Homo sapiens: one gene and its partners. The protein of the gene in region 2 interacts with the protein of the main gene of each other region in a pairwise test. Each region holds a gene or a part of one and is shown on either strand. Other genes may lie near its edges. The genes, in order: PHLDA2, FCHO1, SYTL4 and CCDC13.

What was found.
Region 1: the proteins of FCHO1 (region 2) and PHLDA2 interact in a two-hybrid assay, tested with the Homo sapiens proteins (one large-scale study listed by BioGRID).
Region 3: the proteins of FCHO1 (region 2) and SYTL4 interact in a two-hybrid assay, tested with the Homo sapiens proteins (one large-scale study listed by BioGRID).
Region 4: the proteins of FCHO1 (region 2) and CCDC13 interact in a two-hybrid assay, tested with the Homo sapiens proteins (one large-scale study listed by BioGRID).

What each region holds. Positions count from the first base shown.
Region 1 is NC_000011.10:2,925,810-2,933,155, reverse strand, and holds PHLDA2 (pleckstrin homology-like domain family A member 2), read left to right. Parts: upstream 1-3,735; 5' UTR 3,736-3,791; coding exon 3,792-4,250; 3' UTR 4,251-4,260; intron 4,261-4,488; 3' UTR 4,489-4,883; downstream 4,884-7,346. UniProt on the Homo sapiens protein: Plays a role in regulating placenta growth. May act via its PH domain that competes with other PH domain-containing proteins, thereby preventing their binding to membrane lipids.
Region 2 is NC_000019.10:17,756,143-17,762,472, reverse strand, and holds part of FCHO1 (F-BAR domain only protein 1), read right to left. Parts: intron 104-6,330; exon of another isoform or gene 1-103. UniProt on the Homo sapiens protein: Functions in an early step of clathrin-mediated endocytosis. Has both a membrane binding/bending activity and the ability to recruit proteins essential to the formation of functional clathrin-coated pits.
Region 3 is NC_000023.11:100,721,198-100,729,121, reverse strand, and holds part of SYTL4 (synaptotagmin-like protein 4), read left to right. Parts: intron 1-7,924. UniProt on the Homo sapiens protein: Modulates exocytosis of dense-core granules and secretion of hormones in the pancreas and the pituitary. Interacts with vesicles containing negatively charged phospholipids in a Ca(2+)-independent manner.
Region 4 is NC_000003.12:42,743,118-42,751,041, reverse strand, and holds part of CCDC13 (coiled-coil domain-containing protein 13), read left to right. Parts: intron 1-526; exon of another isoform or gene 527-1,224; intron 1,225-3,668; coding exon 3,669-3,785; intron 3,786-5,014; coding exon 5,015-5,119; intron 5,120-5,883; exon of another isoform or gene 5,884-6,099; intron 6,100-7,924. UniProt on the Homo sapiens protein: Required for primary cilia formation and promotes the localization of the ciliopathy protein BBS4 to both centriolar satellites and cilia.

The DNA of each region.
Region 1 (7,346 bases), on a different chromosome or scaffold from region 2:
CACAGAATCGGGGAAGCTGTGGATGTGGCCGCACTGGCCACTGTGTAACCTGGGTGAGTCACCACCTCTCTGAAACCCCCACCCAGTGTTCCCTGCAAACCCAAGAAAGCAGTCTCAACAGGGAGAAATGACCGCACAGAACTAGCACGGGGCAGGGCCACACGGACTCTCCTGCCGGTGCCTGGCCCTGGCATCTCTCCGGCAGGTGGTTCCTCCGCCTCCAGCACGTGAGTGGTCCAGAACCCTCGTAGAAGCAGGTCCCATGGGGTGTGGCCGAATCCACGCCGGGTTCCAATCTCTGTGCTGTGCTGGAGAAGCTCCCAGGCTCTTGGCTATCAAATGGCTCTAGGAGGGGCATTCCTCAAAAGACCCTCATGTGGGGTCCCTGTGTCAGCACTCTTCTGCCTCAACATCCCTCCCCCACATCCCAGGAAGTGAGTGTCACAGCCCTCATCCTCCAGAGGGGACCCTCAGGCAGGCCTGCTCTGGGGGATAGAGATAGGGTCCCTCCTTGGAAAGGTGACCTTGACAAGTCACTGCACCTCTCTGAGCCACCCTTTCTGCATCTGCAGCTTGGGGCCAGTGCTTCTCCTGGGGGCACCGCTCAGCCCCAGGTGGGACCAGGTGAGGCGGTGAGGCTCAGGCCTCAGGCAAGGGAGGCCGAGCGGGGGCTGGCAGAGGGCGGGTGGCTCAGAGGGGCAGACGGCAGTGTGAGTTAGTGGTGGTGGTAAAGCCCCTCGGGTGGATGGTGGACGCAGAGAGGATGGGGCAGCCCCTGTGTGCAAGTACCTGCCAAGTTGGCATGGTGTCCTCCAAGCCCCTCTCACCTCCTAAGGCCGTGGTTTATTTTTGCCCATGTCCATAAAGACACCCTGGGGGCTCCTGAAGTCACCTGCTGGTCCAGGGCTGGTAAGGCTTGGGAGTCGGCTCCCTCCAGCCCCCACATTGGCAACCAGGTTCAGGCTGGTTTGGCCGAGCAGGGGCCCAGGGTGTCTAGCAGCTGCTGGGGAGGCCAGGGCCACTACAACTGAGCCCCTGGGGCAGGGACTGTGGGCAGAGAAGCTGCCTGGGGAGGCCTGGCCTCCAGGGCTCAGACCTGATTTCCAGCAGCCCCTAAAGGGCCATCCACCCCCATACCCCCCAGGTCTTCACAGTGTCCATGAGGGGAATAGCAGAGAGGGGCTGAGTGGGCAGGAAATCCCCTAGGGAGGGCAGGGCCTCTGAATCTCGGCTGCACACCCTGCCCCCTGGCCTCCCAGCTCCTGCCCCACCTGTCAGAGCATCACCCCTGGGTTGTAAGTCCTGCCCCCAGGGGAGTGAGTTTCCCAGCCTCCCTTGAGAGGGCCACTGGGGTACAGGCAAAGAGAGGAGCTGGGCGGGGCTGGGGGAGCACACCTCACCTGGCCTCACCTGGTTTCCAAACCCTCTTCCTCCCCCTCATTTCTCTCAGCCCCTTATCTGCTCCTGCCTGTTCTCTGTCCCTTCCCCAAGGCCCTCTCCATCCTGAACCAGTTTCCTCTTCTGTGGAACAGGGGCTGGAGTGCCCACTTTGGGGAGTTCTCTGGGTTAGGTGGAGGCTGGGCACAGTGGTGGCATACGGGCACCACTGGCCCTTCAAGGTCTCCTTGGAATCTTCGAGGGCACGCCCTCCCCACAGAGTCCTCCAAGCTGTCCTCCTGGCCTCCAGTACCCCCGACCCCTATCCCCATCCTCATGTACCTGCTGTGCCCCTGGGGTTTAGAGGGATTCCTCTCCCCTCCTCTGGGGTCCCAGCACCAGCCAGGCCTGCAGGCACACAGTAGGTGCTTAAGCAACCACGAGTGTCGGGGGATTTGCCTGGAGCCGAAGTTCCACTGGCTGGCCCCTCAATGGGGTAGGCAGGCTGGTGGGCCTGGAGGTGTTCCAGGCACCTGTGGGCTGGCGCAGTGACAGAGCGCTCTGCCCCCGGCCGCTTCTCCTGGTCTCCCACTGCCCAGAGGTGCCTCTTGCCCAGGTCCCACTGTCCGGCAGCCCAGGGCCCTCTGGAAGCAAAAGAAGGGACACCAGAGTCCGAATCCTTCCTGCAGCCTCTCCGGAACAATGCTCGAATCCCCTCTCCCCGCCAAAGGCTGACCTCCCCTCACCCACCCACCCTACCTGCTGCTCCCTCACCACAGGATCCCAGCCCTGCTGCAAGGACAGGTGTCAGGTAGGGGGCAGTGTTGACCCGCCGGCCCCAGGCAGGTGTCTCACTCCCAGGCCAGAACCCTGGCACAGCCCAACCCTGCCCTCTGCCGGCACTGCCCCTCCACACCACATCCCTGCCCACTGCCAGGTCCTCTGGCCACACCGGTGGGACCACCGGGCAGCTGCTACCTGCATGCCATTCACAGAACCGGGTCTGGGGCGCTCCTCTGAGCCGGACGTCTCTTTATCCTTTACAGTGACCCTGAAGGGCAGGTGGAGGTAGGGCTGGTCCCAGGTCTGGGTTTTACGCTCTGCTGCCACTGTCTTGACATTTTAAATACATTTTGAATCAGGGGACTCTCGTTTTCATTTTGCGTGAGCCCCGTCATTGAGGCCAATTCTGACCCCAGAGTTGGGACTTCCTGCTGTAACCACCCCAGGGCGCAGCTAGGGGGCAGGGGTGCGGGAAGGTGGGAGACGTGGAGTAGTAGCCGGGGTCTCTGGGGTCCTCTCGGCCGGCTCCACCCCCACCCCTGGGAACCCGGGAAGAGCCGGCTTTCGCTTCCTGTCTATTAAACCCTTTAAAGGAAGAGGGTAAATAAAACCGCCCGTCTGCCCAGCTGGAAAGCGATGACTCAGCCGCCCCCGCCGACCCTCGCCCCCAGGCTGATCCCAGAGAGCGGGCGTCGCGGCCCAGCCCGAACCCCTCAGCTCCTGGGACCTCTCTCCGGTCCGGGTCGTGGGGGCGCGGTCGGAGCAGTCCGTACCCCAGTTCGGGACACTACGAGGGCGCAGGGAGGAGAACGGGCTTCCTCTTCCCCTTCCATTTTCTGAGCTCTATGGGTTGCTGGTCTAGCCCTTTCCACGTGTTCCCTAATCCAGCAAAGGTTACTGTTCCCATTTCACAGAAGCGAAAACCGAGGCTAAGAGAGGTGGTCGTTCTTGGCGCAGCCCGTGGGTGGCAAGATAGGAGCTCGGTCCGCTAGGGCAGGGCCACTTTCGGAGAGGGTCTCTGGGCGGCCCTGGGAAAGGCCCCCGAACAGGACGGAACGGCCAGGGCTCGGGAGTAAGGAAGGGGGCCTCGACCCTCCTTCTGCCCCGGGAGCCCGAGAGCGGCAGGGCTGGACTTGGGGCGCCTGGAGGGTGAAGGTCTGGTCCCGGCTGTCTCCCCACGGTGGGCCGGCCCCGGGCCCGCGGGTGCTTCCCGGGGCTCCCCGGCGTGAGTCATCGCGGGCAGGGCTGGCTGCAGCGCATTCTTCCGCGGGGCCGGCCTGCGAGACGGTGCGGGCGAGCGCCCGGGCGGGGCGGGACCTCGAGTCACCCCACGGGGCCGGACAGCTGGGGCACGGGGGGCAAGAGGAGCGCGGGCTTCTGAGATGGGAGGGGACGGCCGGGGACCGACCAGAGCGCGGACGCGACGGTGCGGGCCCGGACGGCTGGGCTTGGGGAGGGTATGGCCCGGGGCGCGCGGGGCTCAGGCGGGCGGGGTGGCCCGAGGGCCGGGGCGGGGCGGGGAGGGGCGGGGCGGGGAGGGGCAGCTATAAAGGCCGCGCCGGGGCCACGAGGAGCAGAGCCGGCGCCGTCACCGCCCGCATTGCCGCTCCCAGTCCCGCGCTCGGCACGACATGAAATCCCCCGACGAGGTGCTACGCGAGGGCGAGTTGGAGAAGCGCAGCGACAGCCTCTTCCAGCTATGGAAGAAGAAGCGCGGGGTGCTCACCTCCGACCGCCTGAGCCTGTTCCCCGCCAGCCCCCGCGCGCGCCCCAAGGAGCTGCGCTTCCACTCCATCCTCAAGGTGGACTGCGTGGAGCGCACGGGCAAGTACGTGTACTTCACCATCGTCACCACCGACCACAAGGAGATCGACTTCCGCTGCGCGGGCGAGAGCTGCTGGAACGCGGCCATCGCGCTGGCGCTCATCGATTTCCAGAACCGCCGCGCCCTGCAGGACTTTCGCAGCCGCCAGGAACGCACCGCACCCGCCGCACCCGCCGAGGACGCCGTGGCTGCCGCGGCCGCCGCACCCTCCGAGCCCTCGGAGCCCTCCAGGCCATCCCCGCAGCCCAAACCCCGCACGCCATGAGCCCGCCGCGGTGAGTGACTGCCCGCGTCCCGGCGAGCCCTGCGCCCTAACAGCCGGGACCGGGGCCTTTGGGAAAAACCACTTCAACCCCAGACGGCGGGGCGGGGGCGCTGCACCTCCTTGGGGGACCCGGCGCCCCGCAATCGCGCTGGCCCCCTCGCGTCAGGGTCTCGGGGCCCCTCAGGCTGGACCCGGACCGGCCCTGGCACAGCTCTCTGACCCAGTCCTTTCCCCACAGGGCCATACGCTGGACGAGTCGGACCGAGGCTAGGACGTGGCCGGCGCTCTCCAGCCCTGCAGCAGAAGAACTTCCCGTGCGCGCGGATCCTCGCTCCGTTGCACGGGCGCCTTAAGTTATTGGACTATCTAATATCTATGTATTTATTTCGCTGGTTCTTTGTAGTCACATATTTTATAGTCTTAATATCTTGTTTTTGCATCACTGTGCCCATTGCAAATAAATCACTTGGCCAGTTTGCTTTTCTACCATCCGGCTGTGGCTCAGTGAGACTCCTGCTGGGAGGGTGGAGGCCCAGGAATGGGCGGGCAGGACACCCTCATCCAGTCCTGCGGGGCTGGTGTGAAAGGCGCTGGGAACCGGCTTTGAATGAATAAATGAATCGTGTCATCTGCTGGGCCTGGTCCACACCCTCTTTTCCAAGCAGCCTCCCCAGAGGCCAGGAAGTGCCCTGGGGCTTGACCCTGGCTACCTTCTGCTCCTTGGTGTGTCCTGAGGAATTGAACCTGGGGAGGACAAGGGCCCTGGGTCCGAGCTGCTGCTGCCTGTGGTGGGGGAACCTTCCCCAGCAGCACTTCCTGCCCACAAACCACCCGCGCAGTCAGACCAGAAGGAATCCCTCAGCCCTCTGGCTGCCCGCCGCCAGCCGCTCCTTGCCAGTGCCCGCAGTGTGGGGCGGGCAGGGTCGCCTTTGCTTCTGGGGGAACAGGAGAGAGTTCTGGGCTGTCTCCGATGGTGGGGCAGGAGGCAGAGGTCCCTGCACCTCCAGGTACTGGCCCAGGACATTGGGGTGGAGAGGCCTGAGTGCAGCAAATCCCTGCCCCTCTTTCTGAGATAGCTGACCACGGCTTTCTGCCCTCCGGTCTGGCTGTGCTCTTTGAAAGACAGGGATGGTCTGAGACAGTTAGGGTTCAGGAAGTGTGTCCCCCACCCAGAAGGGCTCCTGGTGATGAACAAGCTGAGGAGGTGATAAGGGGTACAGGCATGACTCCTCACCCCACAATGGGGCCTTCATTTCTGGAACCTTCGTGGTTGGAGGGATGCCAGTAGGGGAGGCAGAGAAGTACCAGAATTGGACCCTAATCTCTGTTGCTAGGAGGCCGACGAAGCCTGGTAGCTGGTCTGGGCTCAGGGCGGGGAGGGTGCTATCCCTTCGCTGCATGGCCCGCAGGAGTCTTGGTGCTAGGTCCAGAAGAAACTATTGCCTGCAAGGAAGTTTCTCCCGAACGCAATTTGTGAAGCCCCTGTGCAGATCGGGGAGGGGCTCCTGCAAAAAGCAGAAAACAGCAGCCAAGGACGCTGCCTGGCTGGGCTCCTGGGCCTCCTGGCTGGCCCACCAGAGCCTCACCTGGATGGATATCCAAGGTCAAGAGGAGAGCCCTTGCCCCTGGGTGCTTCAAGCATAGGCATGATCCGGCCTGAGCTTTAGGCGAAGAGGGTGGATGGCCCTTGGCTCACTGAGGCCACTTCTTGTTTGAGGAATTTTGGAATTCCTCAAATTCTGAGGACAGTGGAATTCTAAGGTTTGGGGAGTCCATGTTTCAACAGCTTCTTTTAAAAGCAGCCCGAGGAGAGGAGGGGCGGCCTTCATGGTCTCAGGGGCAGCTGCAGACCCTCGCTGAGGCTGTGGAAAGCCTGTCCTCTCCAGATGGGTCAATCGGTCACAGCGGCTGGGCTGGCCTCCTCATGCCCAGTTCTCCTCCCCAGAGCCCAGGACCAGGGGGTGGGGGTGAGGGGTCGGGAAGTGCTGTGGTCAGGAGGCTGGGAAGGCAACGGTACATGGCCTGGCCAGCAAATCAGCTATAGAAGGGACCCCCAGTTCCCAGGCCATGGATGGGTACTGGTCCATAGCCTGTTAGTAGCTGGGCCGCACAGCAGGAGGTGAGCAGCGGGGCAAGCATGACCGCCTGAATTCCACCTCTCGCCAGATCAGCGGCAGCAGTAGATTCTCACAGGGACGAGAACCTTGTTGTGAACTGTGCACAAGAGGGATCAAGGTTGAGCACTCCCCATGAGAATCTAATACCAGATGATCTGGGGTGAAACAGTTTCATCTGGCCCACCCACATCCGTGGAAAAATTGCCTTCCATAAAACTGGTCCCTGGTGCGGAAAATGTTGGGGGCCACTGAGCTGTAGGATGAAGAGGCTGAGATAAGGGGACACCAGAGGAGTTCTGGGGTTCATGTGGCTGGCAGTGTCTGGTGCGGTTCTGGGGTTCGGGTGGCTGGCAGTGTCTGGTGCAGTTCTGGGATTCGGGTGGCTGGCAGTGTCTGGTACGGTTCTGGGGTTCGGGTGGCTGGCAGTGTCTGGTACGGTTCTGGGGTTCGGGTGGCTGGCAGTGTCTGGTACGGTTCTGGGGTTCGGGTGGCTGGCAGTGTCTGGTGCGGTTCTGGGGTTCGGGTGGCTGGCAGTGTCTGGTGCGGTTCTGGGGTTCGGGTGGCTGGCAGTGTCTGGTGCGGTTCTGGGGTTCGGGTGGCTGGCACTGTCTGGTGCGGTTCTGGGGTTCGGGTGGCTGGCAGTGTCTGGTGCGGTTCTGGGGTTCGGGTGGCTGGCACTGTCTGGTGCGGTTCTGGGGTTCGGGTGGCTGGCAGTGTCTGGTGCGGTTCTGGGGTTCGGGTGGCTGGCAGTGTCTGGTGCGGTTCTGGGGTTCGGGTGGCTGGCAGTGTCTGGTGCGGTTCTGGGGTTCGGGTGGCTGGCAGCCTCCTTGGTACAGTTCTGCGACCAGGGTTTGGGTCTGTGTGCTGGACTGTTCAGCAGAATGAGGGCATTTTTCCTTCCATCTAGGAAGGCCTCAGTTCCCTGATCTTTTTTTTTTTTTTGAGATGGAGTCTCGCTCTGTTGCCAGGCTGGAATGCA
Region 2 (6,330 bases):
TCTCTCCGTTTTTCTGAGTCTCTCTGCCGTTTCTGTCTCAGTCTCCTCCCCTTTTCTCTTTGTGTCTTTCCATAAATGAGGAATTATGTGGCCACAGGGGATACTGGAAGTCAAATGGAAACCGTGAACCTTAGAAAGAAGCTGAACCAGAGGGCTTTTATATTTAAAAAAAAAAAAAAGTGTGTTGAGCTGGGCACGGTGGCTCACGCCCGTAATCCCAACACTTTGAGAAGCCAAGGTGGGTGGTTCACTTGAGGTCAGGAGTTCGAGACCAGCCTGGCCAACATGGCAAAACTCCGTCTCTACTAAAAATACAAAAATTAGCCAGGCGTGGTGGCGCGTGCCTGTAATCCCAGCTACTTGGGAGACTGAGGCAGGAGGATTGCTTGAGCCCAGGAGGCAGAGGTTGCAGTGAGCTGAGATCCTACCACTGCACTCCAGCCTGGGTATCAGAGCAAGACTGTCTCAAAATAAATGAATGAATGAATGAATGAATGAATGAAATAAAAATAAAAATAAATTGGAGTGGGTCACGCCTGTAATCCTAGCACCTTGGGAGGCTGAGGCGGGCGGACCATGAGGTCAGGAGTTTGGGATCAGCCTGGCCAGCATGGAGAAACCCTGTCTCTACTAAAAATACAAAAATTAGCCAGGCATGGTGGCGCACCCCTGTAATCCCAGCTACTTGGGAGGCCGAGGCAGGAGAATTGCTTGAACGTGGGAGGCAGAGGTTGCAGTGAGCCGAGATCACGCCATTGCACTCCAGCTCTGGGCAACAGAGGAAGACTCCGTCTCAGGGCGGGGGGGAAGTGTGTGTGTATATATATATATATATATATGTATATACATGAAAAGAAGTCAAATTGTCTCTCTTTGCAACATGAACTTATGTATAGGAAGGCCTAAACACACCACCAAAAAACTCCTAGAACTGATAAACAAATTCAGTTAAATTGCAAAATACAAATATCAACATGAAAATCAGTAGCGTTTCTATACACCATTAATAAAATATAGCTGAAAAGAAATCAAGAAAGTGATCCCATTTATACTAGCTACAAAAAAAAAAAAGTGTGTTAAATTGAGTTGCTGGATCAAACCAACCCTGAAAGCCACATTCCCCCATAATCATTTGATCTTATAAGCCAATACAGTCCCCGTTGCTTAAGTCACTGTAGTTGTGTTTTCTGTTCTTGTCAACATGGAAATTCCGCCTATGAGAACCCAAATTAGGGTCCAGGTTTGAGTTCTCTCCCAGGACCCACCAAAGCCCAGCACAGAATGAGAGACAGAAAGGGCATTTGAGTTCGTTGAATAAATAAACAAATGATTCTGCTGTTACCTGTTAGTGCCACTGGGAACTGAGTATTTCTACCCTGGTGCCTGCGAATGCCTTCACAAAATCTCTTTACTCCAATTTCTGGGGTTGTCATGGTGGGGGAGGCCAGGGCTGCACTGTGTGACCCAGGCAAGTCACTGCCCCCTCTGAGCTTTTAGGAGCTCCTCATTAAGATGGGGCAGGGAGGTTAGGCGCGGTGGCTCACCCCTGTAATCCCAGCACTTTGGGAGGCTGAGGCAGGCAGATCACTTGAGGTCTTGAGTTCGAGACCAGCCTGGCCAAAATGGTGAAACCCCGTGTTTACTAAAAATGCAAAATTAGCCAAGCATGGTGGCAGGTGCCTGTAATCCCAGCTACTCAGGAAGCTGAGGCAGGAGAATCACTTGAACCCGGGAGGCGGAGGTTACAATGAGCCAAAATCATGTCACTACACTACAGCCTGGGAGACATCTGCCTCTTACATGGAGATGATACAAGCAGCAAGATAATCCATGTCAATGCTCCCCAAAGCCCCAAAGGCCACTCTAGTTTTTGCTAATTCGTAACATTAGTTATTAATAGTTAGCATTTGTTTTAAATTTGCTTATGCTTCTTCCCCAAAGACATTTATGTTAAAGGGCAACTTTTTCTGCCACTCTCAATGGAAAATTGGGACCCTCTGCCGCATGAAAGGAGTAGGAAAAAATGAGGCAACAACTATATCTTAACGCCGGCCAGATTCTGTCACCTGGGAAGGGCATCATGCCTGAACACTACTAAGCTGTCCATTAAAAATGGTAATCAGGCCGGGCGCGGTGCCTCACACCTGTAGTCCCAGCACTTTGGGAAGCCGAGGCAGGCAGATTATCTGAGGTCAGGAGTTCGAGACCAGACTGGCCAACATGGTGAAACCCCGTCTCTACTAAAAATACAAAAATTAGCCAGGCGTGGTGGCACATGCCTATAACCCCAGCTATTCGGAGGCTGAGGCAGGAGAATCGCTTGAACCCGGGAGGCAGAGGTTGTAGTGAGCTGAGATCGTGCCATTGCACTCCAGCCTGGGTGACATAGCAAGACTCTGTCCCCCAATGCAAAAAAAAAAAAAAAGATGGCAAAACAGGAGACACAACATATTTCAGGATGAGGCAGGAATGCCTCAAATCATGGCTAATATTTAATGCTGATGTAGAGGTGTTGGCAAATGCAGTAAGGTAAGAAAAATAATTGAGACCAGATTATATGACCATCTACAGAAAACAAAAAATAATAAACAATATGAATAGAACTGAGGAAAAGGCTAAAAGCAAGACCAATATAGATTAAACATGAGGATTTTTTTTTTAACAGGCGTGTGCCACCACACCTGGCTGATTTTTGTATTTTTAGTATAGACAGGGTTTCACCATGTTGGTCAAGCTGGTCTTGAACTCCTGACCTCAACTGATCTGCCTGCCTCGGCCTCCCAAAGTGCTGGGATTACAGGCGTGAACCACCACGCCCGGCCTCATACACACCTTCTGATCCCGCTTCTCTCCACCCCTTGGAGACCTGGTCCTCTGCGCCCGCTGTTGGAATTGGACACCTTTAGATTTGGACTTAAAACTCACCATTACAACTTTAAAATCAATGACTAGATGGGTGTGGTGTCTCATGCGTGTAATCCCAGCACTTCAGGAGGCTGAGGCGGGCAAATCACTCGAGGTCAAGAGTTCAAGACCAGACTGGCCAACATGGTGAAACCCCGTCTCTACTAAAGATACAAAAATTAGCCAGACGTGGCAGTGGGCGCCTGTAGTCCCAAGTACTCGGGAGGCTGAGGCGGGAGAATTGCTTGAAGCAGGGAGGCAGAGGTTGCAGTGAGCTGAGATCCCGCCACTGCACTCCAGCCTGGCTGACAGAGCAAGACTCTGTCTCAAAAAAAAAAAAAAGGTAATCAGCTGGGGTCTGAGGGAACTGGGGACATTTTAGCACCAAATCAGGTCTTATAATAACACTGGAAGAGAAGGCTTGTGGAGGGATCTGATGCCATTTAAGTCCCAACACACATCAGTGAAGCCATCCCTCTGGCAGCATTTGGCGGGTTTTCCATAAATGGTAGTTTCCTGTGCCCTCCTCCAACCTACCAGGTTCACCCTCCCAGGTACCCGGAAGCTTGAATGTTATACATATTTTTCTATGTTTGAGACAGGGTCTCGCTCTGTCTCCCCAGCTGGAGTGCAGCGGCACAATCATGGCTCACTGCAGCCTCAAATTCCTGGGCTCAAGAGATCCTCCCACCCCAGCCTCCCAAGTAGCTGGAACCACAGCCATGTGACACCAGGCCTGGCTAGTTTTTTTTATTTTTAGTAGAGATACGGCCTTACTATGTTACCAAGGTTGGTCTCGAACTCCTGGACTCAAGCAATCCTCCCATCTCAGCCTCCCAAAGTGCTGAGATTACAGGCGTGAGTCACCACACTTGGCCAGAAGCCTGAAGGTTAAAGCCAGAAGTCACTGCTAGGTAACGTTTCCTGCTGCACCAATGGAGACACCGAAGCCAAGACTGGGGCAGACCCAGGTCAGCCTCAAGCCCAAATCTCCCAATGGTCACACTTCATTCTAGAATCATCAATGGGTCCCTATTGCCCACCAGATGCTGAAGTCCAAGTCCATGGCCTGGAATTGCTGCTCCAGCCTCATCTCCTAGCTTCTTCCTAGCCTCACCCACAAAACAGCAAATAGCAAAGACAGGCAGTGCCTTTCCACCACCACATTTTGTCCAGGCTATTCCCGCCATCAGCTCTCCAGCTTGCATCTCCTTCCACCCATCCACATCCTTCCACTTCCCAAGGATCATTGCCACCTGCTCTAGAAACTTCCCTAACCCTGCTCAACCCCCTCCCCCACTTCACTGTTGCTCCCTCCAGCTCGCCAGGAATACGTTTTCTCTTTTTTTTTTTTGAGACGGAGTCTCACTCTGTCACCCAGGTTGGAGTGCAGTGATGCGATCTTGGCTCACTGCAAGCTCTGTCTCCTGGGTTCACGCCATTCTCCTGCCTCAGCCTCCTCAATAGCTGGGACTACAGGTGCCCGCCACCATACCCGGCTAATTTTTTGTATTTTTAGTAGAGACGGGGTTTCACTGTGTTAGCCAGGATGGTCTCGATCTCCTGACCTTGTGATCCGCCTGCCTCGGCCTCCCAAATGCTGGGATTACAGGTGTGAGCCACCGCACCCGGCTTTTTTTTTTTTTTTTTTTTGAGACAGGGTCTTGCTCTGTCGCCCAGGCTGGAGTCCAGTGGTATGATCTTGGCTCACTGAAACCTCTGCCTCCCAGGCTCAAGCGATCCTCCCACCTCAGCCTCCCAAGTAGCTGGGACCACAGGTGCGCGCCACCACACCCAGCTAATTTTTTGTATTTTTAGTAGAGACGGGGTCTTGCTATGTTGCCCAGGCTGGTCTCAAAGTCCTGGGCTCAGGCGATCCGCCATCTCAGCTTCTCAAAGTGTTTGGATTACAGACGTGAGCTACCACGCTCCACCTATATTTTCTCTTCTTGTGTTTGGAATTATATTTTCAAAGTTCAAGTGTCCAATCTCCTTATACGTACAGGGTCACTTTGGGTTGGTGACTTCGTCTCTCTGGCCTCAGTTTCCTTCCTTGTGTGACAAATGGGGACAACAACAGCACCCAACTCCCAAGGGTCTTGCTGGGATGAGGCTGGCACAGTGCTGGCCCCAGGAGATCCTCGGGTGAGGCTGCACCAGGCACCACCGCCCAGAGCAGCATCTGGGTCTGACTCAGAGCCAACTGCTGGCCCGTTTCCCAGACCTGGCAAACCCCCAGCAGCGTCTGCCTCTCTTGGACTGGGCTGGCAGCCGAGGGTCCTAGGAGGGGCTGTCTCAGGTCTGTCTCTCCCACCAGAACTTCTAGACTTCAGACTTGGCCTCTGTGCCAGCCAAAATGTGGTCTTTTTTTTTTTTTTTTTTTTTTAGACGGAGTCTCACTCCATCACCCAGGCTGGAGTGCAGTGGCGCGATCTCACTGCGACTTCCACCTCCCGGGTTCAAGCAATTCTCCTGCCTTAGCCTCTCGAGTAGCTGGGACTACAGGCTCATGCTACTATGCCCGGCTAATTTTTGTATTTTTAGTAGAGATGGGGTCTTGCCATGTTGGCCAGGCTGGTCTCCAATTCCTGACCTCAGGTGATCCGCCTCCCTCGGCCTCCCAAAGTGCTGGGATTACAGGCATGAGCCACTGCGCCCAGCCAAGAGTGTGGTCTTTGTAACAGAGCTTGTTTATGTCCCTCTCCTGCTCACACTTCCCCCATGGCTCCCTAGTACACTTCATGCTTCGGCCCTGCCCTGGCGCAATGAGACTGGGGCATCCCTGTTTGGCTTAATCTCCCCAGCACCACCCAGCAAAGAACCAGGCTTCTATGGCGGCTTCAATACTAGCAACTGATGACAGATGTCACAGGAGGCCTCCCTGAGTCTGGGGGTGTGTGGGGTGCATGGGGTGGGAGTGGCGGTGCAGGAATTTCATCCCTTTTTCCCAGATGGGGAAACAGAGGTTCGGGCAGGCAAAGTCATTTGCTCAAGGGCTTCCAGCAGAGTCAATTCGAATCCTGAACTCAAAGCTCTTAACCATTCTCTACCAGGATATCTTTGGGTGAGGTGGGGAAGTCGGGGGTGGTTTCTATTTTCTCTTTGCTGATCTGAATTTTCTGCAGCGAGCCTGCACGCCTCACACAATTAAAAAGGATTTAAAATAAATGTAGGTGCCACTGTCGGGGTTCCAAAATGCAGGTGACTTTTGATCCTCAAATGGTCACCTCCATTACACGGCAGTACTAAAAGGAGCTCAGAAAGGGGTAGCCCCTCACTGGAGTCACACAGCCTTTCAGGGGCAAATCGGGGAGTCTGACCTTTGGAGAGAGGGCGGAGGTCACACCCCTGCAGGTGGCAAGGGAGTGCGGCCCCTTTAAGAAAGCAAGTGCTTTCAAGAGGAGCCCCAGCTGGGGAGGGAGCAAG
Region 3 (7,924 bases), on a different chromosome or scaffold from region 2:
CTGATTTTTGCTTTGAGATTGCATTCCTGATGCCAACTTTGACCTAGTTGGAAGTACTTCCTCTCTCTTACTTTTTTTTTTTTTTGAGGCAGAGTTTCGCTGTGTCGCCCAGGCTAGAGTACAGTGGCGCGATCTTGGCTCACTGCAAGCTCTGCCTCCTGGGTTCATGCCATTCTCCTGCCTCAGCCTCCCGAGTAGCTGGAACTACAGGCGCCCGCCACCATGCCCGGCTAGCTTTTTGTGTTTTTAGTAGAGACGGGATTTCACCGTGTTAGCCAGGATGGTCTCGATCTTCTGACCTCGTGATCTGCCCTCCTCGGCCTCCCAAAGTGCTGGGATTACAGGCGTGAGCCACCGCTCCTGGCCTCTCTATTTTTTAAAAGTATGAGTCTCTGGGTGGAAATCTCTAAAGTTTAAAAGTGGAAATGTAAAAATGTTGTGCTTCTTGTTGGTAGGAAGGGGGACTGCACTGGGAGGAAGGGGTGTGGATTGTCAGATGTCTTGAGGCTTTTCAGGCTTCTCGCAAGATCAATAAGAGGCTGGAGAAAGTTACTGTGCAATGGGGAAGTGAACAGCTCAAAAGAATAACGGATGGCACAAATTAGGCTTCTGGTTTCAAGTTACCCATAGCCTTTTAGGTATGAGGTGGTTATTGGATTATGGAACTTTATGGAAAAGCCGTAGCTGAGTGCTATTTGTGTTGTACTTAACTAGTTTTCTACCAGGATGACTGTGCAGTCTGGAGAAACCACTGTGTAACATAAAAGAAAAAAGTGCTATTCTGTTTAAAAGTGTTTTGAAATGTTCAGAAAGGAAGAGGCCAGAATCTCTTAGAAGACAGACTTGGAAGGAGTTGGGCCCTTCAAAAGGTGGTAAATATGTGATTCTCATCATTTAATATATGTTAACTTATTTGAAACTCAAATTTGTACAAAAAGCTGACCAGCTTCTTTTTCTACTAAATTTGTCTCCCCAGCCTTTGAACATTGCAGTGACCTGGGGTTCAGTCCCTGGACTTTTCTCCATCTAAAATCTTCACAGAGGCTCTCATCCAGCTGCATGGCTTTGAAGAACATCTGTCTAGACTGTTGTCACTCCCAAATTTATGTTTGTTACCCAGGCCTTTCTTCTAAGCTGCAGCCTCATATATCCAATGACCTATTTGACATCTCTGCTTGCCTATCAGATAGACCTCTCAAATGTAACGTGGCCAAAACGGCACTCCCGATTGCCCTTGTATTCCCACCCTCTTCCCTCAGCACTCCCTGTCTCAGTAAAATGTCACCATCATCCATTCAGTTGCTCAAACCAAGAACCTAAGATCACCCTTGATTCTTCTTTTTCTATCACTGCTCTCCACCCAATTTAATTCATGAGGGAGTCCTGCTGACCTGATCTTCAGACTGTATCATGTGTTCTGCCACACGTCTCCATCTCCTCTGCCTGTCACCCTAGTCCAAGCCACCACACGTCTGCCACAAACATTCTTGCATAATGCTCAAGGATATATATATACACAAGTATTTTTGTGGGATAGCTTTCTAATAGGAGAATTGTTAGGTCAAAGGACATATACATTAAACAATTTAAATAGGCATCACCAGAGTGACATCTAAGAGGGTTTACCCTTTCACCATTGCGAGTGGTTTTCCTCCTGCCCTTGCTGAGGATGGATGACGCTTTTAATTTTTTCCAATCTGATAGGTGAAAAATAGTATCTAACTGATTTAACTTGGCATTTCTCTGATCACTAGTGTGGCTGAGCATCTTTTCATTTGTGCTAGCTATTTGTATTTTTCCAAGACTTGCTCCTTTATATCCTTTGCACATTTATCTTTTGGGTTATATATTTGATTTGTTTGTAAGAACACTATATTTATTAGTTATATTTACCCATTGCCTATTATATAGTGCAAGTTTTTTTCTCTCTAGTCTGTCATATGTCATAACTTTGTTCATGATGTGTACCCCTCTCGTAATCAGATAAAACCCACTATAAAACATTTAAAAAACACGTTCATTAGATTTGGCAATTAGGAGGCCAATGACAACATCAGTGCAGCAGGAGGAGAGAAGGCAGATCGTAGAGGGTTGGGCAGTGAGGACTGAGAAGGACTGATAAAAAATATGGTAGATACACATGGACATGGAGAGTGGGATGATAGACAATGGAGACTCAGAAGGGTGAGGGGTGGGAGAAGGGTAGATGATGAGAAATTTCTTAATGGGTACAATGTATGTTATTCAGGTTATAGATACCCTAAAGTCTCTGACTTAACCACTGCATATGTAACAAAATTGCATGTGTACCCCATAAATTTATATAATTAAAAACATGTAGTATATACATTGAAGAAGCTTGGCTATGATGGGAAGGAGAGAGTGTTCCTTATAGACAGTAAGGCACAGGGGATAAAAAGGCTGTTTTATTTAATTTTGTTTTACTTTAAATATAAGAGATAGATGAGCCCATTTATGTGCAGATGGCATACAGCTTGATGATGCAAGGTCCCCGAGAAAGTCAGAGGGTGGGAGTGCCAGAGTGAAAGAGGAGAAAAGACTAGCCTTAGAGAAAAAGTGGTGGCTCTTCCATTGAAACAAGAGGATTCACCAATCCTCTTGGTAAAAACTATGGAGAAGGAAGTACCTGTGGAGGGACAGGATTTTGAGAGAGCCCCTCCGCCCCCAACAAGAGAGTGAAAGGTTCACCAGAGAGTAAAGAAGGCAAGAATGGTGAAGGGTTGGAATAGCATTTGAGAGAGACGAAAAGAGGAGTTCTTTAGGGGCATATCATCCAGGTTATGTATGTGTATTTCAAAATATCATGCTGTACACCATAAATAGACACAATTTTTGTCAAGTATACCTCCATAAAACTGGAAAAAAGTTTTAAAATGGCTTGGGTAACTTGAATTTGTCTCTGCCTCAAGTCGCAGAACCCTGTATCCATTCTGTCTGGCAGCACTCATCAGACCAGGAACAGAGTGTGGACAATCTAGTATGGGGAATTTTTTCCGGGTGGCCGTGACAGAAATAGGGAGAGGGCTGGAGATTGGATGGCCCTGGCAGAAGAATAGTTGAAATGATGGACCACTGTGGCTTTCATATTCATATCTGTGACTATCTAAACCTAACTTGACCTTGAGTAATTTTTAAGAAGTAGAAAATTTCCATGGCATCTACACTGCTTCTTGTTTGTAGCTCTATCGATTCAGGCATCAGAATACCATTAGTATCAGTGTCTTTAAACTCATCAGAAAGCGTGATTTGATTTACTGAGGGCCTATGTTGTGCCATGCTCTGTGTTGATTTACTGAGGATTTACGTTGCACCAACTGAGAGCCTACAGTCAGGATCCTACAATGTAGATTTATCCATCTATCCATCCATCAACCCAGCTAGATGCTTGAGGTATGGCTGAGAAGAAGGTAGACAATGGCCATTTTTCTCCTGGAACTTATTTCGGCAGGGGAAGTGTATATTAAATATTGTATCACATAATTTTTTAATTACAATTGTGATAAGTTCTGTGAAGTTCAGTTTTCTTAGAAATCAGATTGTCACATTGCTTTTTAACAGGCCTTACTAATTTACATTTGCCAACAAAATATGAGAATATCTCTTAAATCCTTTTTAAAAACTGAAAATTGTCTTTCTGAAATTTTGCTGAATTAATAAGCAAACATAAAAAAATCTTTATTGCCAGTAAGAGTGAAACTTTTTCTTTTTGATGTGTATTGGCCATGTGATTTTTCCCCTTTAAGAATTATCTATTCACGCTCTCTGTCTATTGGATACTTACCTCTTCTTGTTTTTAATAGATCTCTCATTCCATGTTTGAAACCATTAGCTACACTTCTCTCCTTTCTCTCTTAGCCCTGGTGACCTTAAAATATTTTCCCCTAGTCTCTACGGCCATTCCCTTTTGATCTCCTGTGAAATTTTTTTCTTACCTAGAAGTGTTGCTGTGCTTAGGGATGGGACTACATTTTTATTACTTGACTCAATAAAAGGTAACATATAAATCTTCTGTTCCTGCTTATCCCACTCTCCAGAGGTAACAATGTTAAGATTGTATTTCTTTCTAGACATTTTTCCATTCATCCATGATCCAATCTGTCTAAAATGTAAACAAATAAAAATGGAATCATAATATATATGATTTGCAATTTTTTTAATTTAATATGCTTTCAGTGTCAGTATATATAGAACTACAGTACCTTCTTCTTTTTTTTTTTTTCTTTTTTCTTTTTATTGATCATTCTTGGGTGTTTCTCGCAGAGGGGGATTTGGCAGGGTCACAGGACAATAGTGGAGGGAAGGTCAGCAGATAAACAAGTGAACAGAGGCCTCTGGTTTTCCTAGGCCAGAGGACCCTGCGGCCTTCCGCAGTGTTTGTGTCCCTGGGTACTTGAGATTAGGGAGTGGTGATGACTCTTAACGAGCATGCTGCCTTCAAGCATCTGTTTAACAAAGCACCTCTTGCACCACCCTTAATCCATTCAACCCTGAGTGGACACAGCACATGTTTCAGAGAGCACAGGGTTGGGGGCAAGGTCACAGATCAACAGGATCCCAAGGAAGAAGAATTTTTCTTAGTACAGCACAAAATGAAAAGTCTCCCATGTCTACCTCTTTCTACACAGACATGGCAACCATCCGATTTCTCAATCTTTTCCCCACCTTTCCCCCCTTTCTATTCCACAAAACCGCCATTGTCATCATGGCCCGTTCTCAATGAGCTGTTGGGTACACCTCCCAGACGGGGTGGTGGCCGGGCAGAGGGGCTCCTCACTTCCCAGTAGGGGCGGCCGGGCAGAGGCGCCCCTCACCTCCCGGATGGGGCGGCTGGCCGGGCGGGGCGCTGACCCCCCCCACCTCCCTCCTGGACGGGGCGGCTGGCCGGGCGGGGGAGCTGATGACCCCCCCACCTCCCTCCCGGACGGGGCGGCTGGCCGTGTGGGGGGCTGACCCCCCCCACCTCCCTCCCGGACGGGGCGGCTGGCCGGGCAGAGGGGCTCCTCACTTCCCAGCAGGGGCGGCCGGGCAGAGGCGCCCCTCACCTCCCGGACGGGGCGGCTGGCTGGGCGGGGGGCTGACCCCCCCCACCTCCCTCCCGGACGGGGCGGCTGGCCGGGCGGGGGGCTGACCCCCCCACCTCCCTCCCTGACGGGGCGGCTGGCCTGGCGGGGGCTGACCCCCCACCTCCCTCCCGGACAGGGTGGCTGGCCTGGCGGGGGCTGACCCCCACCTCCCTCCCGGACGGGGTGGCTGCCAGGCGGAGACGCTCCTCACTTCCCAGACGGGGTGGCTGCCGGGCGGAGGGACTCCTCACTTCTCAGACGGTGCGGCTGCCGGGCGGAGGGGCTCCTCACTTCTCAGACGGGGCGGCCGGGCAGAGACGCTCCTCACATCCCAGACGGGGCGGCAGGGCAGAGGCGCTCCCCACATCTCAGACGATGGGCGGCCGGGCAGAGACGCTCCTCACTGCCTAGATGGGATGGCGGCCGGGATGAGGCGCTCCTCACTTCCTAGATGGGATGGCGGCCAGGCAGAGACACTCCTCACTTCCCAGATGGGGTGGCGGCCGGGCAGAGGCTGCAATCTCGGCACTTTGGGAGGCCAAGGGAGGCGGCTGGGAGGTGGAGGTTGTAGTGAGCCGAGATCACGCTACTGCACTCCAGCCTGGGCACTATTGAGCACTGAGTGAACGACACTCCGTCTGCAATCCCAGCACCTCGGGAAGCCAAGGCTGGCGGATCACTCGTGGTTAGGAGCTGGAGACCAGCCCGGCCAACACAGCGAAATCCCATCTCCACCAAAAAAATACGAAAACCAGTCAGGCGTGGCGGCGCGCGCCTGCGATCGCAGGCACTCGGCAGGCTGAGGCAGGAGAATCAGGCAGGGAGGTTGCAGTGAGCCGAGATGGCAGCAGTACAGTCCAGCTTCACCTCTGCATCAGAGGGAGACCGTACCTTCTTCTTTTTAACAAAGGCACAATATTCCCTAATATGTGTGTACAATAACTAGTCAGTTTCCTTTGATGGATGTTTATGTTCTTTAATTTTTTTTTTTTTGCTGTTTCAAATATTGAGCATCCTCAGAATATATATTTGTGAATTTACTTGAATATCAGCAGAATAAGTTTCTCAAAATGAAATGGCTATGTTAAAAATATGGTCAGTGGTACTAAAGATCCAGAGAAATCTAGGAAGACCAAGAACTGTCTATTGGATTTAGGAAGTTCTTGGTGACCTTAGAGCAATTTCAGAGAACTGTGAGGCAGAAAGCTAAACTATGGTGGGTTGAGAAATGATTGGAGAGATGAGGAAGTGAAGGCAGTGATTATGTACAATTCCTTAGAGAAATCTGTCTGGCTTTGAAGAGCAGAGAAAGGGTAGTAGCAAGGAAGGAGTTGAGATTGAGGACCTGTTATTTATTTATTTATTTATTTATTTAGGAAGGACTTGAGTTCCTTTAAAGGCTGGTGGGAAGGAGGGACTAATTAATAGAGCAAAATCCTTGGAAGGCAAAGTCCTTATGCCAGATGGGAGGGGATCCAGATTGAGGTAGAGGATTATCCTCAATAGGCATAGATGAAAGTAGGTTCATAGATTTGGCGGCAGGAACTTGTCTGATGGTATTTCTATTTCTCTATGATATAATAGTTAAGGCCAACCTCTTAGAGCAGGGGTTAAGATGGGACAAGGTTTGAGTTAGATATTTGTGGTATTTGAAGAAGGTTTGAAATAGTTATTGTGGAGAACAGGAGAGCAGCCTAGGGAAGCATAGTTGCAGTGCCAGGCAGGGTTAAGATGAGCTTGGTGACCAAGAATTCATATGGATAATAATCTACCAGAGTGTGATTTTTTTTTCTCCAGTAGATCTCAGGAGTCCTTGTGCATGCATAAAGTATAACAGTTGGGCTTAGAAGAGCTATGGTTTTTTAAATCAGATATTTGCAGTGAAATTATGCATTATTGAGGATATTGACAAGAGTGCAGTTGAAACAATAGAATTGGCTGGGTGCGGTGGCTCACACCAGTAATCCCAGCACTTTGGGAGGCTGAGGCGGGTGGATCACCTGAGGTTAGGAGCTCGAGACCAGTCTGGCCAACATGGTGAAACCCCATCTCTACTAAAAATACAAAAATTAGCCGGGCATGGTGGCGCACACCTGTAATCCCAGCTACTTGGGAGGCTGAGGCAGGAGAATCGCTTGAATCCAGGAGGCAGTGGTTGCAGTGAGCCAAGATCATGCCACTGCACTCCAGCCAGAGCAATAGAGAAAAAGTCTCAGAAAAAAAAAAGAGAAAGAAACAATAAAATTTAAATGTTATTGGGAAGGAAGTAAAGATGGGAAGGAGCTGAGGAGGTGAAAGCAGAAGGGTCTATGGAAGACTGCCCCCATCCAAGAAATCTGAGAACAGGAATGGGGCTAGTTGGGGGGCTCATTGGCTGAATAGGCTAGAAGCACAGCAGGTTGTGGTCAGAGAGGGGGTGTTGAATCAGTGATATCAAAGGTGGAGAAGTCCTAGATGATAAGCTCTTGGGTGTGGCTGAATATGATATATGGTATTCTTGATGCCAGCTCATTCATTCAACAAATATTTATTTTGTGCATATTATGATCCAGGCAGTGCTCTAGGCACCAAAGGTACAGAAATGAACAAAACAAAGTCCCTTCTGTCATACAGCTTACAATCTAGTGGGGGAGATTATTTTTATAAACTAAAAGAACATCCTTATTGATGTGCTGATTCCTGTATGTGTAGCTTTATTTGTAACTAATGATAATACCAGGATCAAATATTTACATATATGGGGGCTAAGAAGGTCCATCTAGGCATTTTGAGTATCTTGCTTTATCTCAAGTTATACTTACTGAATTATGAAAACTCATACCTCTTTTCCCCTTAGAACT
Region 4 (7,924 bases), on a different chromosome or scaffold from region 2:
AGGTTCCGAGGTGAATGTGCCTCCTCAAGAGTAGTCTTGTGTAAACCTGTCTCATTGCTGGGGAAGTAGAAGAGGGGCTCTGCCCTCTACAGGGGCTGAGTATTCTTCAGGGCCTTTCCTGGCTTCAGGGGACACTGCTAAGCTGCCCCTGGTTTATTCCACGCATTGAGCACCTCCACATTCCGAACTAGGGCTGCCCTGGATAGGAAACTGCTTGTTCAGCCTGATGGGATTTTCTAAGCCCTGTGGCACAGAGAATCAAAAATAGAGCCTTGACCGGGTGAGGTGGCTCATGCCCGTAATCCCAGCACTTTGGGAGGCTGAGGCTGATGGATCACTTGAGGCCAGGAGTTCGAGACCAGCCTGGCCAACATGGTGAAACACCATCTCTAGTAAAAATACAACAATTAGCCAGGCATGGTGGCGAACGCCTGTAATCCCAGCTACTCAGGAGGCTGAGGCATGAGAATCGCTTGAACCTGGGAGGCAGAGGTTGCAGTGAGCTGAGATAGCGCCACTGCACTCCAGCCTGGGTGACAGAGTGAGACTGTGTCTCAAAACAAACAAACAAACAACTACAACAACCACCAAAAAAACAGAGGCTCTGTCTATGGAGAATCCCAGAGGAGGAATGAGAAGTCATTCGAAGGCAGGATGTGGACAGGGCCTTCAGAGATGGCCCCGGTGCTCTAAGCTCACAGGGGAGTCCACCCTCCATTAAGGTTGCAGCTGGAAGGTGGGACGGAGGAGGGCGTCCCTGAGCTGGCCTTACTGGAGAAGGAAGATGGGGAAGGTGAACTGAGTGTCAGCTGGATAACATTTGACTGCAGCCCAGAGCTCACACGGGAGAAAAGGGGAACGAAAGCCAAAAAAGCTGGGGTGAAGTCACCCATAGAGGGAGCCCTTGAATGGCAGCTGGAGCAGGAGTTTTGACTTTATTCTGTGGCCACAGGGAGCCTGGGAGGTTCCAGGTTCTGAGAGAAGAGTGTGTGATGGGCCGCAGGTCTCAATTCATCAGCACCACGTGTTCTCCCTGGCATCTCCTGATCAGAGCGAGAGCAAAAGCAATGTTTCCCCTCATAGGCTGCTCAGGGCGGCCCAAGCCCGAGCCACACTCCAGAGGCCTGCAGGCTCAATCCACATTCCAACCCTAGGCCTCCAAAGCACATTCCAGAGTGGAGCTGAACACCCTTCCCTCTGCTTGGGGCTTCAGGAGGCCGTGATGTGAGTAGCGTTGGCATCATCTGCTCCCCATGTACTGCGCTTTAGTTATTTTCTCAAAGAAAACAGCCTCGGGTAGGGGAGGGAGCGTACCCATACCCAGGTCCCCCACAAAGCCTGTGGAATTTCACTCTGGGAAGAAAGAACTCTGAAATGGCTTAGAGGTAGGATTAGCTCAACTGCCTAAGCTAGGAGGACGGGGCCTGATCCAGCCCTCTCCAGAACACCATCTAGCCCTCAGCCCACTTGTCAGCTGCCCACTCAAGCCAGGCTAGGCCTGCCAGCATTGCCCTCCATCAGGACCTGCCCCAGACAGCACCCTTGACATGCGTTGTCCTAGCAACCCTCTCAGGTTCCCTGGAGATTGGCATTACATATCCCCATTTTACAGATGAGAAAATGAGGCTTGGACAGGGCATCACTGCCCAGGTTCTAGAGCCAGATCCAATCTGTATGCTTTTTCCATGCTCTGAGCAGATCAAAGAGATGCTGCAGGGTCACTGCAGCCATATGGAAGCACATGTACTCCCACAGCTCTCAGCACCCCCACTGTCAGGGCCACTGGGGCTCATGGCGCTAGAGATCTGACAGGCAGGGCGGGGCGTGGCAGGGGGTGGAGGGGTGTTGCTTCCCAACCCAGGGCAGATTCAAAGCCACACATTCAACAGGAGAAGAGGCAGGCACCCAACAGAGTATGCAGGGATGGCAGGCGGCCAGACAGGAGGAAGAACACAGAAGAAAATATACTTTAAAAAAAAGGATGGCCGGGCACGGTGGCTCACATCTGTAATCCCAGCACTTTGGGAGGCCAAGGCAGGTGGATCACCTGAGGTCTGGAGTTCAAGACCAGCCTGGCTAACATGGTGAAACCCCATCTCTACTAAAAAATATACAAAAATTAGCCAGGCATGGTGGTGGGCACCTGTAATCCCAGCTACTCGGGAGGCTGAGGCAGGAGAATCGCTTCAACCCGGGGGGGCGGAGGTTGCAGTGAGCTGAGATTATGTTTCATATAAGTTCCGAGTTGGCACATTCTGTTCACGTTGGCTGTTCTCTTTAGCCTGATGGTGGTGCTCTGAGGAAGCGGAGCAGGAAAGTATTTGTATACTCATTCCATAGATGAGGACACTGGATGAGGCCAGAGTTTCTGGACCAGGTGTTCATGTCTAGTTTCTTTGGCCAGTGGTTTTCAGCTGGGCTGCCCAGAGCCTCTGGGGTCCATGGAACTTCCCGGACCCAGTATACTTGGATCTGTCTTTCACACTAGCATTCAGAGGAGATTTTGTTTGTGCCTGCTAGAGAAAGGTCAGAAAGCCACTGTAGTACCAGCCCTGCTTCCTGAAGTTCAGCTGCTTTGCCCTGTTGGGGCAGCAGCAGAGGGCCTCAGCGTCATTGCCTGATGGGATGCTCAGCCTGACAACCAACGTTCCTGTGGCCACAATGCCCAGCATTAACAGCAGCTTAAATTGGAAGAGTCAGCCAGGGCAGGGGAAGGACAAGTATTCTTTCTCATCCCACCTGTGTCACCCCAACCAGCTGTATGCCTGAAGGCAAATTACCTCCCCTCTCTGGGCCTTATTTTCATCATTATGGAAGGGGTTTAAATGGGCTGACCTTGAAGGTCCCTTTGTCAAATATCTATGAGTCACAGGAGTGTCTATTGAAGACAGAGAAGTAGTCAGCCCATTTAAGAAAAATTTCCATCCAGATAGTTTAAATAAAACATTGGGTTAAAAAAAAAAAAGACATTGCTAAGAGTTTCAGCAGGCAGTTTTCATGGTTGCTGTAGTTCTTCAAGCCACAGAGATGAGCATTTGGAAATTAAAATGGGTCCTTATTTCTATTCAGTGGTCACTGCTAGGAAAGAGAGCCCAAGGCCCCTCAGCTGTCAAAAGACCAAGGCCCAAGCTGACGATTCTGGGAGAGGCAGATCCTGAATTAGGATGCCATGGCTCTCCTGCCACGCTGGGCTTGCCTTCGGGGAATAACGTGGTTTCCTCTTTATTCTGAGTGAAGATGGATTAGCTGTGATGCCAGTCTCTGAGCACAGCAGTGGGTCCACACCCAGGAAGTGTCTGGGAGGCGTGGAGCCTGCCGCTTCCTCCAGATGCTTCACCTCTAGGGTAAGGCATACACCCACATGTGTGTGTGCAACACTCTGCAAAAAGCTCAGTCCCAAAGTTAAGCTGCCAGGATTCAAATCCAGGTTCCACCTTTATTAACCAGGTAGCTCAAGTAGAGGACTTACCTTCCACCACCCTCCATTTTGCATCTATAAGGGGCTTACAAGAGAACCTACCTCACAGGGGTTTATGAGGATTAAATGAGTTCTTCCATGTCAAACACTTAGCACAGTGCCTGGCACAGACTTGGATAAATGGGGGCTATGATTACTATTCCCATGTAGGCAATAAATGACTACTTTCTCTCCTGTCCTTCCCAACCAGCTGGAGACCCCAGAGGTGAAGGCCCTGCAGGACAGGCTGGTGGCCACCAACTTGAAGATGAGTGACCTCCGAAACCAGATCCAGTCTGTGAAGCAGGAGCTGCGGATGGCACAGAAGGTCTTTCAGAGCCAGGGCTTGGGGCTTCTTGTGTGGCTGGGGCTGGACTTGGGAAGAGCACGGCTGGCACAGTGGATTCCTTTCTGGAGCCATGAGTGCTCAGTCCCTTGAGCACACTGCTTGCTCTGGGTCAGGCTCCAGTTCCAGTCCTTCCTCCCACCAGCCCTTGGTCCATAACCATTTGGTGGGCAGAGTCGCTGGCTACCTGAGCCTGCCACCCCCACCCCCGCAGCATACCTGCCCTTGTGGTGCCTGCCCAGCTCTAGACTGAGGAGGACAGCACTGTCCACCCAGGGAGAGTCCATTAAGCCTTCCCTGCACTACTTGTGCCCCAGTAGATCCTGGGTCTCCCCTTAATGTCACCCTTACTTAACTTGAAAGCCTGCCAACACCTGCCTTCTTCTCTGCTATCTGTAACAGAAAATGAATAGGTTACTTGTGTATTAAAGGACCCTTTCAAAGGAAAATGCTCAGACTTGGGACACAGGCCCAGCTGGTTCGTTATTTATTTTTATTTACATAGCGAATTCTCTGGCATTTGTCTTCCCTGCTGGAACCACTCAGACTGGCCAAGATTTCCAAAACAGTGTTCTATTGTGGAAACAAGTGCCAGAGACTTGGTACGCTGGATCGGGTTTCTGTGACAGGCTTCAGAGGGGCCCAGGTCACAAGCTGGAGCGTATTGTTTCTGCCTCAAAGCCTTGAGGTTGGGCCTGAGTGCTGCACTTCAACAACCGCAAAGCTGGGTCCTTCTTGGACCACAGCACCCCAACTGACATTCAGTAGCCCACCTTTTGCTGCACTCAGAGGTCCACTTGTCCGTGGGTTTTCACAAAGGCTAGGGTCCTGTGGTGATGTACTTCCTATAGCCAGAATTAGCTCAGCACTAGGTGACAGGTGAGTGGGTTAAGGAAGCAGGAGTTGGTCAGCTTTGTGGTTCAGTCATCCCAGAATATGTCAAGAGCAAGGGGCCCTATCTGGGCATTGCTGGCAGTTTCTTGGCTGCTCTAAGCATTGCCAAGAAATGCCAGGGATGATGGGTTTACTACTTTCCCAGGGAGAGCTGCCCTTGGGACATGGAAAACTGACCTTTGAGGGCTATGCTCTGAGATGGGAAGAAGATCGTGTAGGTGAAGACTGCTTCTGAATATGCTTCTAAATACGTAGCAGCATCAGGGTCTGGTGGAGCCCTCTCTTTTGGCCACATTGAAGGCCCTGCCTTATTTCAGGTTTTGGCCAGAGAGGTTGGGGAAGACATCAACGTTCAGCAGCTCCTATCTTCGCCAGGGACCTGGAGGGGTCGGGCTCAACAAATTCTTGTTTTGCAGAGCAAGGTGAGTGAGTCATCAGACTTCTCCTGGCCTGAACAAAGGATTTAAAACACCCCAGAAAGAGCTGCCCTGACCCCCTTAGAGACCTAAGCACACAGTACCCAAAAAAGGCCTTTAGGTCTCACAGTGCACTCGTGCGGGGTTGTTGTTTTACCTTCTCGCCAACCAGCCTGATTTTAATTTGTTATTTAATGAACAAGCTCTTATATAACACTTAGCACATGCCAGGCACTGGAGCTTAACAAATGCCAACGCCTTTGGTTTGATTTATTTTACTCCAGGCATCTTTTTTTTTTCTTAGTTTATGTAGATTTGCGTGACTGTTGTAATTGTAAGCTTTTTCCAGTTTTGTCCAGATGCTTGTAGTCTTTTGAAAGTTTAATTACCCAATAAAAATTTAGCCTTGTCTCCCTCTTTATTGTCTGAATATTTTGGAGCATACCAAAAGCAGCTAACAGCAGGGGCTCTGGAGCCACACTGCTCAGATTCAAATCCCAGCTCTCCACTCACCAGCTGTGTGACCTTAAGCAAGTTCCTTTAGCTCTGTGCCTCAGTTTCCTCATCTGTATAATGGGGATAATAACGATGCCTACCCCACAGGATTGTTGGGAGAATTGAGTCAATACTTGTAAAATGCTCAGCACAGGGCCTGGCATGGAGGAAGCACTGTATAAAAGTTAGGTGTGGTTCTTTTCCCTTTGTCCCTTCAAACTGAGAAACATGTGAGAAGGTGTATGACTTCCACCATTTGCCAAGCATATCACCCTTGTTCCCAGGGACTTCGAGGGTCACAGTGGCTTTTATCTTCAGTGTCTCCCATGGGATCCTTGAAGCCAATATAAAGGGGGAAAAACTCCAAGAAGCTAATAGATGATAGTGCATGGCCTTGGGGTTCAAGAGACCTGAGTTTACGTTTGGCCACCGGTCTGCCAACTCTGACCTTGGGCAAACCCCTTCATCTTCCTATGTCTTCATCTTCACACCTGTGAAATGGGGTAACATAAAATAACATTTGTAAAGCACCTAGGACAGTGCCTGACCATAATAAGCACAAAACAACTTACTTCTTATTGTCATTAAGTTACATGTCAAATTCTTTTTTTTTTTTTTTTTTTTTTTTTGAGACGGAGTCTCGCTCTATCACCCAGGCTGGAGTGCAGTGGTGCGATCTCGGCTCACTGCAAGCTCCGCCTCCCGGGTTCACGCCATTCTCCTGCCTCAGCCTCCTGAGTAGCTGAGACTACATTTGCCCGCCACCACGCCCGGCTAATTTTTTGTATTTTTAGTAGAGACGAGGTTTCACTGTGTTAGCCAGGATGGTCTCGATCTCCTGACCTCGTGATCCGCCCACCTCGGCTTGCCAAAGTGCTGGGATTACAGGCATGAGCCACCACGCCCGGCCCTGTATGTCAAATTCTTAAAGGTAACAGTATTCTTTAATGATTAAATGGAATTGCCTCACAGCGCCACACGAGGGCACTGGTGGGTGCCTTCAAAGCTGTGCTCCTGCCCTTTGCCAGGGAGCCTAGCGAATTGTGCTTCCTTTCCTGGCTCAAGTTTACCAACATTGTTTTGTCATTTGGTTGTGTTGATAGGGAAACCAGGGTCAGAAGGACCCTAGGAGTTGTCTGCTTCTACCCTAGCGTTATAAGGGTGATAAGGGCATTGTTCTGTGGGATGACATCTACCTGCCACTTGCTGAAGGCCCACATGTGCCAGGCTGTGTTGACAGCTTCACCTAGACCATCTTGGGATTTTGCAAAGTTACCTAATCCTAAAAATAACCTGTAGCATTTAAAATGCAGATTCCATGTCCCTTCCGCTAGAACTGTAGTTTGTTGATCTGGAGTAAGCACCAAGATTTCAGTCCAAGAAGAACCTCAGAGGATTCCCAGGCTCAGACAACTTCACAATACTGAATCCTCATAACAGTGTTACGCAGGGCAGTGTTACTCTTAGGCCCATCTTACAGATGAGGGAACTGAGATTCAGAGAGTTACCTGTGCGCAGTCACACAATCTGTGAGGCTTTGAGGCAGTCTGTTTCCAAACCCTGCCTTCCCCTCTTCAGTATCTCCTGTAAGTGACTGCCATCTTCCGAGAAGCCCACCCAGTCTTAGGTGGTCTGTCTGTTAGAAAGTTCCTCCTTGCCCAGCACTTTGGGAGGCTGAGGTGGGCAGATCTCTCGAGCCCAGGAGTTCAAGTTCAAGACCAGCCTGGGCAACATGGTGAAACCCCGTCTCTACCAAATTTTATATATATATATATTTATATTTATATATTTATGTGTGTGTGTGTATATGTGTATATATATATGTGTGTGTGTATATATATATATAAAATTATCCAGGCACAGTTGCCTGTGCCTGTGGTCCCAGCTGCTTAGGAGGCTGAGCTGGGAGGATTGCTTGAGCCCGGGAGGCAGAGGTTACAGTGAGCCATGATTGCACCACTGCACTCCAGTCGGGGCAACAGAGCAAGACCCTGTCTCTAAAATAAATAAATAAATAAATAAATAAATAAATAAATAAATAAATAAATATTCTTTCTTGAACTGAGACCTGCCATCCTATCCATCCCTGGTTCCTGGGGCCATAGGTCTGCTTTCCAGCCTCAAACAGCCCCTCAGAGATAGGGTGATTTTTCTCATTCACCATTTTTCTAAGCTGAACTTTCCTGGTGTCTTCCAATGTGTTGCTCAAGATGCCAGCTCAGATTGTCCCCCACCCCTAGTCCTCCTCAGATGGGGCTACCACAGCCATCTAGAGAGGTGGTTCCATCTTCAGTCTGTGGGGTCTCCTATCACACT